Linked DNA regions of Homo sapiens: region 1 is linked to region 2. Evidence: fine-mapped expression QTL. A gene starts in region 2. The other region holds a variant in brackets. All regions are shown on one strand. Distances are between the middles of the regions. Region 1 holds the start of U2AF2 (U2 small nuclear RNA auxiliary factor 2). Region 2 holds the start of EPN1 (epsin 1).

Region 1 (5,358 bases), 21 kb after region 2:
AAAAACCATGCAAAAGCAACTTAGCCTTTAAGACTTGGTTTTCTCTTTAAACGAGGGTCGTATCTACTCCATCCAGGTGTTGTGTGGCAGAATGACATTTGGAAAGCACCTTTTCCTGCCCTTTCCCAACTCTGACACAATCTCTGTGAGCGGAAGACCCTCCTCTCTAAGCATGGAATTTTACAATTGCAAATATCGCTTACTGCACACCCAGTGTACGCAAAGCCACATGCCACACACTTTACATGTTACCCCATTTAATCTCAGCTCTGCCTCTGACTAGCTGAGCCCTGAGAAAGTTTTTAACTTTTCTGAGCCCTCAGTTTCCTCCCCAGTAGAGGTGGAAATCATTTTGGCCTCACAAGGCTGTTAAAAGGATCCACTTAGTAAAACATGCTAAGAGTTTAGCGAAGAGCCTGGCACACGGTAAGCGCTCAGAGTTTAACTACATCTATCGTTACTATCATCCTTTTTAATCTTCTCAAAATCCGGTAACAAGAAAATAATAATCAGTCTACAAATGGAAAAAAATATATAAACGTATTAAAAGCAGTTACTAAACGACAAAGCAGGTATCTAAACTTCCTGATGTGCTCAACTCCAAAGCCTATGCTCTTGAGCAGTCCATCAACTAAGACAGAGTCAGACCCTCAGTAAACGTTATTGCTTCCCCAGGACACTGTTTCCTAATACAGCCCCTACCCAACTCTAGCCCGGGTTCAAAGGAAAATTCCTCAGCCCTCATTTCGTCCTCCGAACGAGCTAGGAACATGGGCAGCTGAAGCCTGAAAAGAAACAAGTCTCCAATCTTCCCTGGTCCTGTATTTCTTCACAAACTGAAACACGGAGGATTTTTAAAGCGTCTTAACAACTCTCCCACTTCTAATATTATTGGAATCCCTAAGATCAGGGCCCCAGGCTTTTTGTTCTAACCCATCACAATTTTCGATACCCTGAAGGGAACCTGCCTCCCACCTTCCCCGTAAGTGAAGAGTTTAGCGCAGTGGGCCAGATCCCTCTTCCTCCCTCAGAACCTGTTTTCTTATCTCTATATTGAGATCTGAGACTGAGTATTATCAGGTGCCCTGAGATTGGGATTGTAAATGATTTGAGGTTTGTCTCAAACACTCCATATCGCGATTCTCGGGACCGCCAAAAGCCCCGCATATGCAGGATGTGTGCGTGCGGACACTCAAAGAATGCAGATGCTTTTAGGCAACATGTGCCAAACACGTTAATATGAGGCGCCCCACTACCAACAGACGGGGCAGAAACCACCTGGCGGGAGAGATCAGAGCAAATCAGCAAAAAGGAAAAGGGGTACGCGAGGGGCCCGTGGCCTCCAAGCATCCGCCGAAACGGCTCTGCCCTCATCCACGTGAAGGAAGGAAAGGGGCCCCCCCACCAAGTTCTCACAACCGCCATTTTGGAAACAAAGGGGGCGTGGAGACGCTGCCGTGGGCCCGACCGGAAGCGGAAGTGCCAAGGCAGCGGGAGAAAAGAGATTACGGGGACTAACATAATCTCCTTTTCAGAGAAACCAAAAAGATTTTAAAAAACAAAAGTTCACGTCGAGGCATCTGGCGCGCTCGTGCCGCGTCCCCCGCGCCACCTCCGCCAGGACCACGTGGGGCGCAGGGACAGCCGCCGTGCGCATGCGTCACGGGCCCGCGCCCCGCCGCCCCCTTCCCCTCGCCTAGCGCGCGGCGGAACGCTGGGGACGTCACGTGAACGAGGCGCGCGCCACGGAACCAGGGTTGGGGGGCGCCGCGCGGCCGTGAAGTGGGGGGAAGCGAGGGAGAAAATGGCGGGGGGGCAAAGAGCGACGCGAGGAGCCGCCCACACCTCCGCCCCGCGACCCCGGTGCCCTCACCTTGTTTATTCTCGTTGAGCTGCCGCTCGAACTCGTCGAAGTCCGACATGCTGAGGCGGCCGCGTAGGGCCCTGTGCAGCTTTCGCCTCGCCTTGCCGCCCGCTCCAGCCGCTTCGGCTACTTCCGCCGCTGGCTTCGGCTACTTCCGGCCGCCGCCGGCGCTTCGCCACCTCCTACCTAATCAAGCCTCCGGCAGCCCTCCCCGCCCCGCCCGGGCTCCGCCCCCTCACCCGCCCGCCCGCCCGCGAGCTTGCCCCTCCCCCCGAGCCTGGCTCCGAAGCGCCTCGGCTATCTCCGGATACTGGACGAAGGCGAAGCAGGCGGCCGCTTCGGCTGCTTCCGAAAACACCCGAACGTAGGGTTTCGCCGACTTCCCAGGTTTCCGTAACTTTTCCGAGATTATCTCCTCAACGTTCGGAGGTTTCCGTGTGTCCTCGTGTGCCACTGCGCCCAGTCCCCTCTGCGAGTTCGGGTTCTTCCAACAATTCAATCCGTCCCAGTCTTTGGCTTCTTCCACGGACTTGCTCCGATCTTCTCCGCCGGCCCTGTCCAAGCAATCGGCCACTTCCGACAATCCTAA[C/T]CGTCCCGGCCTTCGGCTCTTTCCGGAGATTTCCGGATCTCGCCCTCGGGCCCCTCCTGGGATTAAGCTCGAGTCCGTGTTTCGGCTCTTTCCGGAGATGCCACTTGCTCACGCCTCCGATCAGAGAACTTCGGCTCCTTCCGCCACCGCTTCGTGAAGGCCTCACTCTCCGGGGACAGCTTCGACTTTTTCCGTGGGTACCTCGGCTCCTTCCGGCTTCGGGAACGGAAAAGGGAAGGAGAACAGAGACGAGATGGATCAGGGGAAGGGATAGAGAAGGGGACGAGGTCCTAGTTCTCGGCACCTGGCTCTCCGGGTGGGGAAAGTGAAAGAAAAAAAGGGCCGGCCTCGCGGAGGGCCTGAGAAGGTTGTGCCAGACAAAAGCAGCAAGAGGGATGAAGGGTGCGCGCGACCGCTGCGGAGGTTGCCAGCGCGGCTTTTTGCGCCTGCGCAGGGTGGAAGCCGCGGGTGAGGGGAAACAGGCTTCTGCGCCTGCGTAAAAGTCGTTCTGTGGCGCGCTCTCCCACTGCTCCCGTGAAGGGGGTTGCGGGGACCAGGTTTCAGTCCCCATTGCGCGTGCGCGAGATTTCCCTTACAACGGTGAAAGTGCTTAATCCCCAGCCGTTAAATCCGGCCACCCTCTTGGTTGTCTCGGCAACCACATCAACGCGCTCCGGCTCTTCCCGCCGCGCAGGCGCGGCAGACGGATCATCTGGCATTACTTCCGGGAGACAGATGATCTGGCGTTACTGCCCCCTGGCGGCCCAACGGAAGTATCCTCCAGACTTGGCCTGGCCGCTAGGTGGCCTCCCTCGCTAGAGGTCATCGACTCACGCCTCTCGCGCCGCGCTCCGGTCTGGGTAGCCCAGCGGGTAGTGTCCACGCTTCTTTTTACTTTTTTTTTTTTTTTTTTGAGACGGAGTCTCTGTCGCCCAGGCTGGAGTGCAGTGGCGCGATCTCGGCTCACTGGAACCTTCGCCTGCCGGGTTCAAGCGATTCTCCTGCCTCAGCCTTCCAAGTAGCTGGGACTACAGGCGCCCGCCACCACACCTGGCTAATTTTTTGTATTTTTAGTAGAGACGGGGTTTCACCGTGTTAGCCAGGATGGTCTCGATCTCCTGAACTCGTGATCCGCCTGCCTCGGCCTCCCAAAGTGCTGGGATTACAGGCGTGAGCCACCGCGCCCGGCTGTGTCCGCGCTTCTTTTCCCGAGCTCTGCCTCCGAGTTTTCTGGGGCGCAGCTGCTTCACTCTCCATCTCTGCCTCCGGGGGGCTAATTACACCGTATCCTACCCGTCCTCCCGCCTGACCACCCACCCCCTTGGAAGCCCCCGCAACCCCGTCACCGTCTTCGGGGCGACGGCCGCCCCCTCCCAGGCACGTCCCCCTCCTAGGAAGAGGCTGAGGCCAAGTTTATTCCAAATTTTCACGTCGTTTTTTAATTTAAATTATCTGAATAATTCTCTGTCTCACGCGGAGTTGGGGAGGTCTGTCCGGGAATCAGGTGGGCAGCTCCTCCGCGGGGCCAGGGCGGAGACGGGGTCTGTACAGTCCCCCACTCGAGGGGGGGGCACCCGCCTGCCTGGTTTTCCAGGAGGAAGGGGCCCGGCGAGGACAGGGCTGGGCAGCCCAAGCGGAAGGGGGTGCCGGCGTTCGGGAAGGGGCCGCGGCCGGTCCGGGGCCGTCGCGCTTGGGGGCCCGGCTAAGGGAGCCCCCAACCCAGGGAGCGAGGAGGAGGGGCAGGGGCGCGGCGGGGAGAGGGGCAGGTCATCCACCGGGGTCCACGGGGGAGGAAGGCCCGGGTGGAGGCGCGGAGGCGTGGTGCGATCACCGCTTGAAGCGGTAGGTGATGGGCAGCAGCAGCTTGCTCTTCTTGAGCGCCTGCACCTTCTTGAGCGTCTCGTCGTCCAGGGCCAGAAAGCAGCGGCGGGAGTACTCGAGCAGGCGCTCCTTGGAGGGGTCGAACTCGCCCACCTCGGCCAGCTTCTCGGGGGCCACAATGAGCAGCTCGGCGATGGGCGTGGTCAGCGCCACGGTGTTCCTGTCCACGCGGTGGTGCTCGAAGGCCCGCGACATGCTCTTGAGCTTCTGGAAGGTGCCCAGGATCTTCTTGTACCGGCAGAGGACCCCGTCGGCGTCCTTCACTGAGGGGTGGAGGCGGGGACACGAAAGTGAGGGGCAGGGCACAAGACTGAGGGGGCGGACACGGGAAGGGAAACGGCCATGGGAAGAAAGGATCTCGGCGAGCAGAGGCACGGGCCGGTGCAGGTGGAGACGGAGAACAACAGGCAAGGAAGGGGCAGAGAGGAGGGGAAGAATCGCAGCCAGATCTTGGACCAGTGGGAAATGGGAAGAGGCAGGCCCAGGAAGGAGAGTGAGGAGACAAAATGAGCCAAGAGGCCGGGTTCAACCCACGCGGTCCCAGCACCCCCCGACACCCCGAGCCATCACCCTCGTCTCCCTGCCTCAGGTGAATTCACTTATTCAAGTCTCACCCTCCCCGTGAGGTAGGTCCTACTGCGCACCTCCTCCTTACTGATGAAAGTTAAGGAGGTGCCCAAGGTGGCCCTGCCCTCGACGGTGGACCAAAACTTAAAAGTAAACCCAGGACAGGCCATGCGCGGTGGCTCACGCCTGTAATCCCAGCACTTTGGGAGGCCGAGGCAGGTGGATCACGAGGGCAGGAGATCCAGACCATCCTGGCAAACACGGTGAAACCCTGGCCTCTACTAAAAATACAAAAAATTAGCCAGGCGTGGTGGCGGGTGCCTGTAGTCCCAGCTACTCGGGAGGCTGAGGCAGGAGAATGGCGTGGACCCGGGAGGCGGAGATTCCAGTGAGGTGAGAATGCGCCACTGCACCACTCCAGCCTGGGCGACGGGGCAAGACGTCCCCCCCGCCAAAA
Region 2 (5,358 bases):
GGATATCCACTCACCCCAAGGGCTCTGCTTACACTTCCCAGGTGCACACCCAAACATCACAGTCACCTATCCCTGGGGCCTCATCAGTAAACTCAGTCTCCCTCATGATTTTATATTCTCGTCTGATTCTGTAGCTAAGGTCAACCCACAGGCCCCATGGGGGCAGAGAACATGTCTGTCTGCATGTGGCTTTTCCCAGCAAAGAAGCTGGCCCAGAAAAACCATTCAGTAAACCATGCAAGGAGGAAGTGGAGAGGGAGGGCAGGAAAGACCTCTGGAACAAGGGCAGAGGGGGCAGGAATCCACAGCAGAAACAAGGACACATGGGAAAGAAGGCTGATGAAGGGATTAAAGACAGAGGCAGGAGCAGGGAACCAACCCAGGGCGGCAGGAAGAACCGGGGAAGCCAGAAGACCAGACGTCCCAAGGATAGCGGAAGCCCAAGGCTCAGGAGAGATAAGGAACCTAACAGCCCCACTGCCTGGGTCCCTGCTGTGTGCCAGGTGCTCGCTCAGCACAAGAGGGACATTACCTTTTTCAACACTGCATGCAAAGACTGGGCTCCTGGAAGTTAAATAATTCAACCAAGGTCACACACCAGGAATGGCAGGGCAGACTCAACCCGAGGCCCACCTGAACTCCAAAACTCATACTTTTAAATTAACCTAAATTAAATTAACCCATCCCGAGACTGGTGACGAGAAACAAGAGAGTCAAGCAAATGATGATGACACCAGCAGACACTCGCACTGCTCTTATCCCATGCCAGGCACTGTTTTAAGTGCTTTACATGTATTAACTCAGTTAATCCTTGAAACAACCCCATGATTCATAGCCACCTCACAGGGTGGAAACTGAGACACAGAGGTTCAGCCCCTTGCCCAGGGACACACACCTTACTCCTGGAGCAGCCTGGTTCCAGAGCCAGCTCTGATCACCCATCTATGCGGCTCCAAGAAGCCACAGAGGGAGATTTTCAAAGCCCCGCCATGATGTAAGCCCAGGGGAGATAGGGATGACGGAGAGAGGCTGGCCTCTGCTTCCACCTCAGGCCAGAAAGCCAGGCACCTGAAGACAGATGTAGCTAGTTAAAAAGTAACTCTCTGGAGTCCCAAAACAGCCCCAGCCTAATACATTAAGATGAAGAGATGATGTAACAAATGCAGAGAAGGGGACTGAGAAGAAATAGAAGACAGTTCTGACAGAAAGAGACACATAGAAACCTGGGCAGAGGGAGCTAGGCAGAGACACAATGAGAAAAACACAGGCAGCAGCAGATACAAGAACATGGGAAGACAGGGAGGCAGGAGGCCAAGGAAGAAAGAGGCCCAGAAACAAAAAGAGACCTGGCGCTGAGAAATAAGAGATAAGAAAAATGGAATCTAATGGCAAAGAATATAAAATGTGGGTTCAAATCCTGGCCACATCAGCTACCTGCAGCGCACACCTCCTTGAGACACAGTTTGCTCAACTCTGAAATGAAAGAATTCCTACCTGGTAGGCCTGTTGATTAAATAAGATGGGTACATGCAGTGCTTGGCTCTGTGCCCCACAGATAGTAGGCGCTCAATAACACTGGCTGCTATTATTATCAGAGAAAAAACAGAGAACATTTCCAAAAGGGTGGCGGCAGAAAAGGCACTATCTTAATACTCTGTACTTATTTGGCGTGCATTAGAAAAAATTACCCAACTAGCACATCAAAGCTGAGATTTCTCAGATACTGCTTAGAATGAGACTGTATTTCAAATTAAATTGATTCAAAGAGAATTCTTACATTAAAAAGAATACAAAGGATATGGCAAAGTTCTCCAAGGAGTACTCCAATAACCGACCGATATCTAACACTTACTGTGTAAAAATCTCTAAGCACTGTAATAATAAAAACCAGAGCTCCCAGTAATTACACACTTGCTATGTGTCAGATACCGTCAGGCACTTTACAAGCATCACCTCAACTTACATGCACAAGGACCCTATGATGTAGGAACTACGAATGCCTACGAACTATGGATTTCCTACGACTAGGAAACTGAGGTTTTGACACAGAGACTATCACCTGGCAATTACACAGCTTAGCAGGCAGCCGGGCTTCTGAATCCAAGGCTGGGGCTCTTCACCATCACACCAGAGACTCAGAAAACTGGGGAAAAGGGGCAGATTCTAGATCAAGTTAACAGACTCCTGGAAAGAAACTTCAGGATTGGAGGTGATAGGTATGGGGGCAAAACTCAGATGCGAAGACGGGGCGGGGGTAAGATTTGCACCATAGGCAGAAAAGCCCGCAGGGAAGGGCTAGAGACACCTAGGGAAAAGAAGACTCGGAAACTCAACGAGACACGAACAAATCCTGACAGACACAGACACGACAGACAGAGGAGAGAGAGACCCGGGACAGACACACAAACACACTCCTATCTCCAAACCCTTTTCTAAGTTCACTGAAACAGGCACAGGCAGAGGCCCACAGGAAACAGACGCTGACAGACACACAGACACGAGAGAGACAGACACAGACAACCGACACGGGGGCAGTCAAGGCCGACACAGGAGCAGAGACACAAAGGCCGCCAGAGACACCCAGAACTGGCCAGACGCGAGCCCGCGCGCGCCGCGGCCCAGGCCCGAACACCCGGAGCAGGCGGGCCAGCGTCCCCCGCGCTCCGCCCCGCGCTCACCTCGGCCCCCTCACGCCGGGCTCTGGGGGGTCATGGCGGTCAGCCCCCTGCCCCGCTCGGCCTCGGTGTCGCGGGACGTGCGCCGGGCCACGGGCGCACGCACGAACGCAAGGAGGGCCGCACGCCGACGGCTCCGCCGCCCCGCCGCCCAGAAGGGGCGCGGAGAGCCGGGCGGGGGAGGGGAGCCGCCGAGGAGACGGGAAGCAACAGAAGGAGGCGACGGACCGGAAGCGGAAATTGCCGCGCTCCCCGCCCTCCCGTGCCGCACCCCGCCCTGGCAGGAGTCGCTTCCGCAGCCAAGCCAACCTGGAAGGCATCACTTCCGGCGCGCTGGGCCCCGTTGCTAGGCGCCTCTACGTCACTTCCGCCCGCTGCAGCGGGGGATCCGCGCGGTGCTCACGGAACGCCGAGAGTCAGCTCCAGCTCGCTTGGCGGCAACCGCGGAGCTCCTGGCACACCCACGCCACGCCCGCCCCGGCCCGCTCGGCCACCATCCCTCCTGTCGGCGGGGTGGGAGAGCACTCGGGAACCTCACGTCCCCCGGGGCTGTGCCTGTGCCGACCCCGAGAAGGGCACCGCGCAAGCAGGGAAGGCCTCGAGGCTGCCGGCGCCGGCAGCAGGGGCGTCCCAGCCAGGGGCCCGCAGTTTGCCAAGGGAACCCCCACCCGAGCCCAGAACCGAGGAAGAGGGTCGGACATACTGGACACACAGCCGCTCCATAAAGTAAAATACAACAAAATGTTTAATGAGCAAATTCGTCTTAGCAAATATGAAACTGCCACAGAGAGTAGGAGAGGGGCAGGGGCCACGGGGCTGGGCGCAGGTCGGGGGAGACTAAAGAGGAAAAATCAACTACGTAAGAAACCCAGGAGGGGACCAGAGAGGACCAGAGGCCGAAGGAACAGAGCTGTGGTCCTGGTAAGGGAGAGGGCAGGGCACTGAGGGCCGGACAACAAAATTCAAAATAGTTTGGCCATAAAATATAAACACGCTATGTTCCTACCGTGGGGAAGGGGAGAAGAAAGGGGTCTATGGGAGAAGGAGAGGCTGTTTTGGGAGGGGCTGGGGTCCTACCCCGCCCTGCTGTGCACCCTGTCCCCATCCCAACCCCTTCCCTCTGTGTCTGTGTGGGTGCGTGTTGTCTGTGTGGGCTGTGTGCGCACTTCCCCAGTCCCCTCCCTGCCCTAACCCCCCAACCCCCCAACCCCCGCCCCCCACCCTTAATTGCTGCCATTCCAGTTGCTGCCGGCTGTCGTGTGTCTGCGGCTGTCACTCCTCTGCCCATCGTCTTCAGAGGGGGATAAGGGGGGGGCGGGAGTGGGGAGAAGCCCCCAGCCAGCCCTGCCCCCACCCTCCCCCAGCCGCCTCTACCAGAAGTCCCGGCGGTGATAAGAGTCGGGGTCACAGTATTTTGTGACAACCACTCTGTTGGCGAACTTGCGGCCCGTCAGGCCCTGCATGGCTTTCTGGCAGTCAAACACAGAGGTGAACTCCACAAAGATCTGTGGGGAAAGGAGAGGCAGGTTTGTGAACAAGGCTCACGCCCAACAGCCAGTCAGCGTCCACCCAACCCCAGCACTGAAGGCAGGAAGGGACAGGGAGGAGGGGGCTTCGCCACAGGTGTCAGAAAGGGACCCTTAGTAAGCAGGTTTGGTGGAGTTCACCCAAATATTCTCCAGGATCAAAAAACAAGAGCATAAACACACCATAGGCATGGAGAGGGAGAAAGAATAGAGACATGCCAGAAACTCAGCAGAGCCATAGAGCGCAGGCGGGAGGCCTAGACGAGCTCACCGCGGGGGAGGGGTCCCTCGTGCTGAGTGTCTACTCCACACGAGCCACCATGGTGGGCGCTCCCAGAACCACCCCAACAGCCATGTTCTCCCAACAATAAGTGAACTAAGGGAAGCTCAGAAATTAGGATTCAAACCCAGGTTGAATAAAATTTAAAAACTTGAACCTTGATCTATTCGAGCTTCTAACCTTGCTTAAACCAATTTACAGGAAAATGGAGGGAGGGAAGGATACAATGAGCCTACACGAACACTGAAAATTCTATATAGCAGATGAACTTATTTCTTCTACAAATAAAAGAGCTTGCAAAAAAAAAAAAGAGGGAGTGAGGTACAAAGGATAAATTACACAAACTTTGTAACCAAATTCAAGGCAGGGACCTGATATGGATCCTTACTGAAACAAACTATAAAAAATATCCTCGGCTGGGCACAGTGGCTCACGCCTGTAATCCCAGTACTTTGGGAGGCTGAGGCAGATGGATCACCTGAGGTCAGGAGTTCAAGACCAGCATGGCCAACATAGCGAAACCCCATCTCTACCAAAAATACAAAAATTAGCCAGACATGATGGCGGGTGCCTGTCCCAGCTACTCTTCTTTAACTCGGGAGGTGAAGGATGCAGTGAGCCGAGATTGCGCCACTGCACTCCAGCCTGGGTGACAGAGTGAGGCTCCGTCTCAAAAAAAAAAAAATTATTGGCCGGGCGCGGTGGCTCACGCCTGTAATCCCAGTACTTTGGGAGGCCAAGACGGGCGGCTCACAAAGTCAGGAGATCGAGACCATCCTGGCTAACACGGTGAAACCCTGTCTCTATTAAAAATACAAAAAAAATTAACCAGGTGTGGTGGCGGGCACACTGCACTCCAGCCTGGGCAACAGCGAGA

Evidence for each region.
Region 1: its variant is fine-mapped to the expression of EPN1 in whole blood (INTERVAL, PIP above 0.99).

What each region holds. Positions count from the first base shown.
Region 1 is chr19:55,651,669-55,657,026 of GRCh38, reverse strand. CCDC106 (coiled-coil domain containing 106) reads right to left here. Exons shown (of 5, transcript NM_001370470.1): 5 at 3,866-4,597. The coding sequence ends at 4,281. U2AF2 (U2 small nuclear RNA auxiliary factor 2) reads right to left here and starts at 1,992. Exons shown (of 12, transcript NM_007279.3): 1 at 1,874-1,992. The coding sequence starts at 1,922. RefSeq lists enhancers at 1,167-1,246, 2,197-2,866 and silencers at 1,607-1,746, 1,957-2,006, 2,097-2,146. The variant C/T (reference allele first, on the strand shown) is at 2,454.
Region 2 is chr19:55,672,756-55,678,113 of GRCh38, reverse strand. It overlaps EPN1 (epsin 1), which reads right to left and starts at 2,888. Exons shown (of 11, transcript NM_001130072.2): 1 at 2,679-2,888. U2AF2 (U2 small nuclear RNA auxiliary factor 2) reads right to left here. Exons shown (of 12, transcript NM_007279.3): 12 at 3,398-4,180. The coding sequence ends at 4,046. RefSeq lists an enhancer at 1-195 and silencers at 117-411, 2,607-2,936, 3,107-3,326.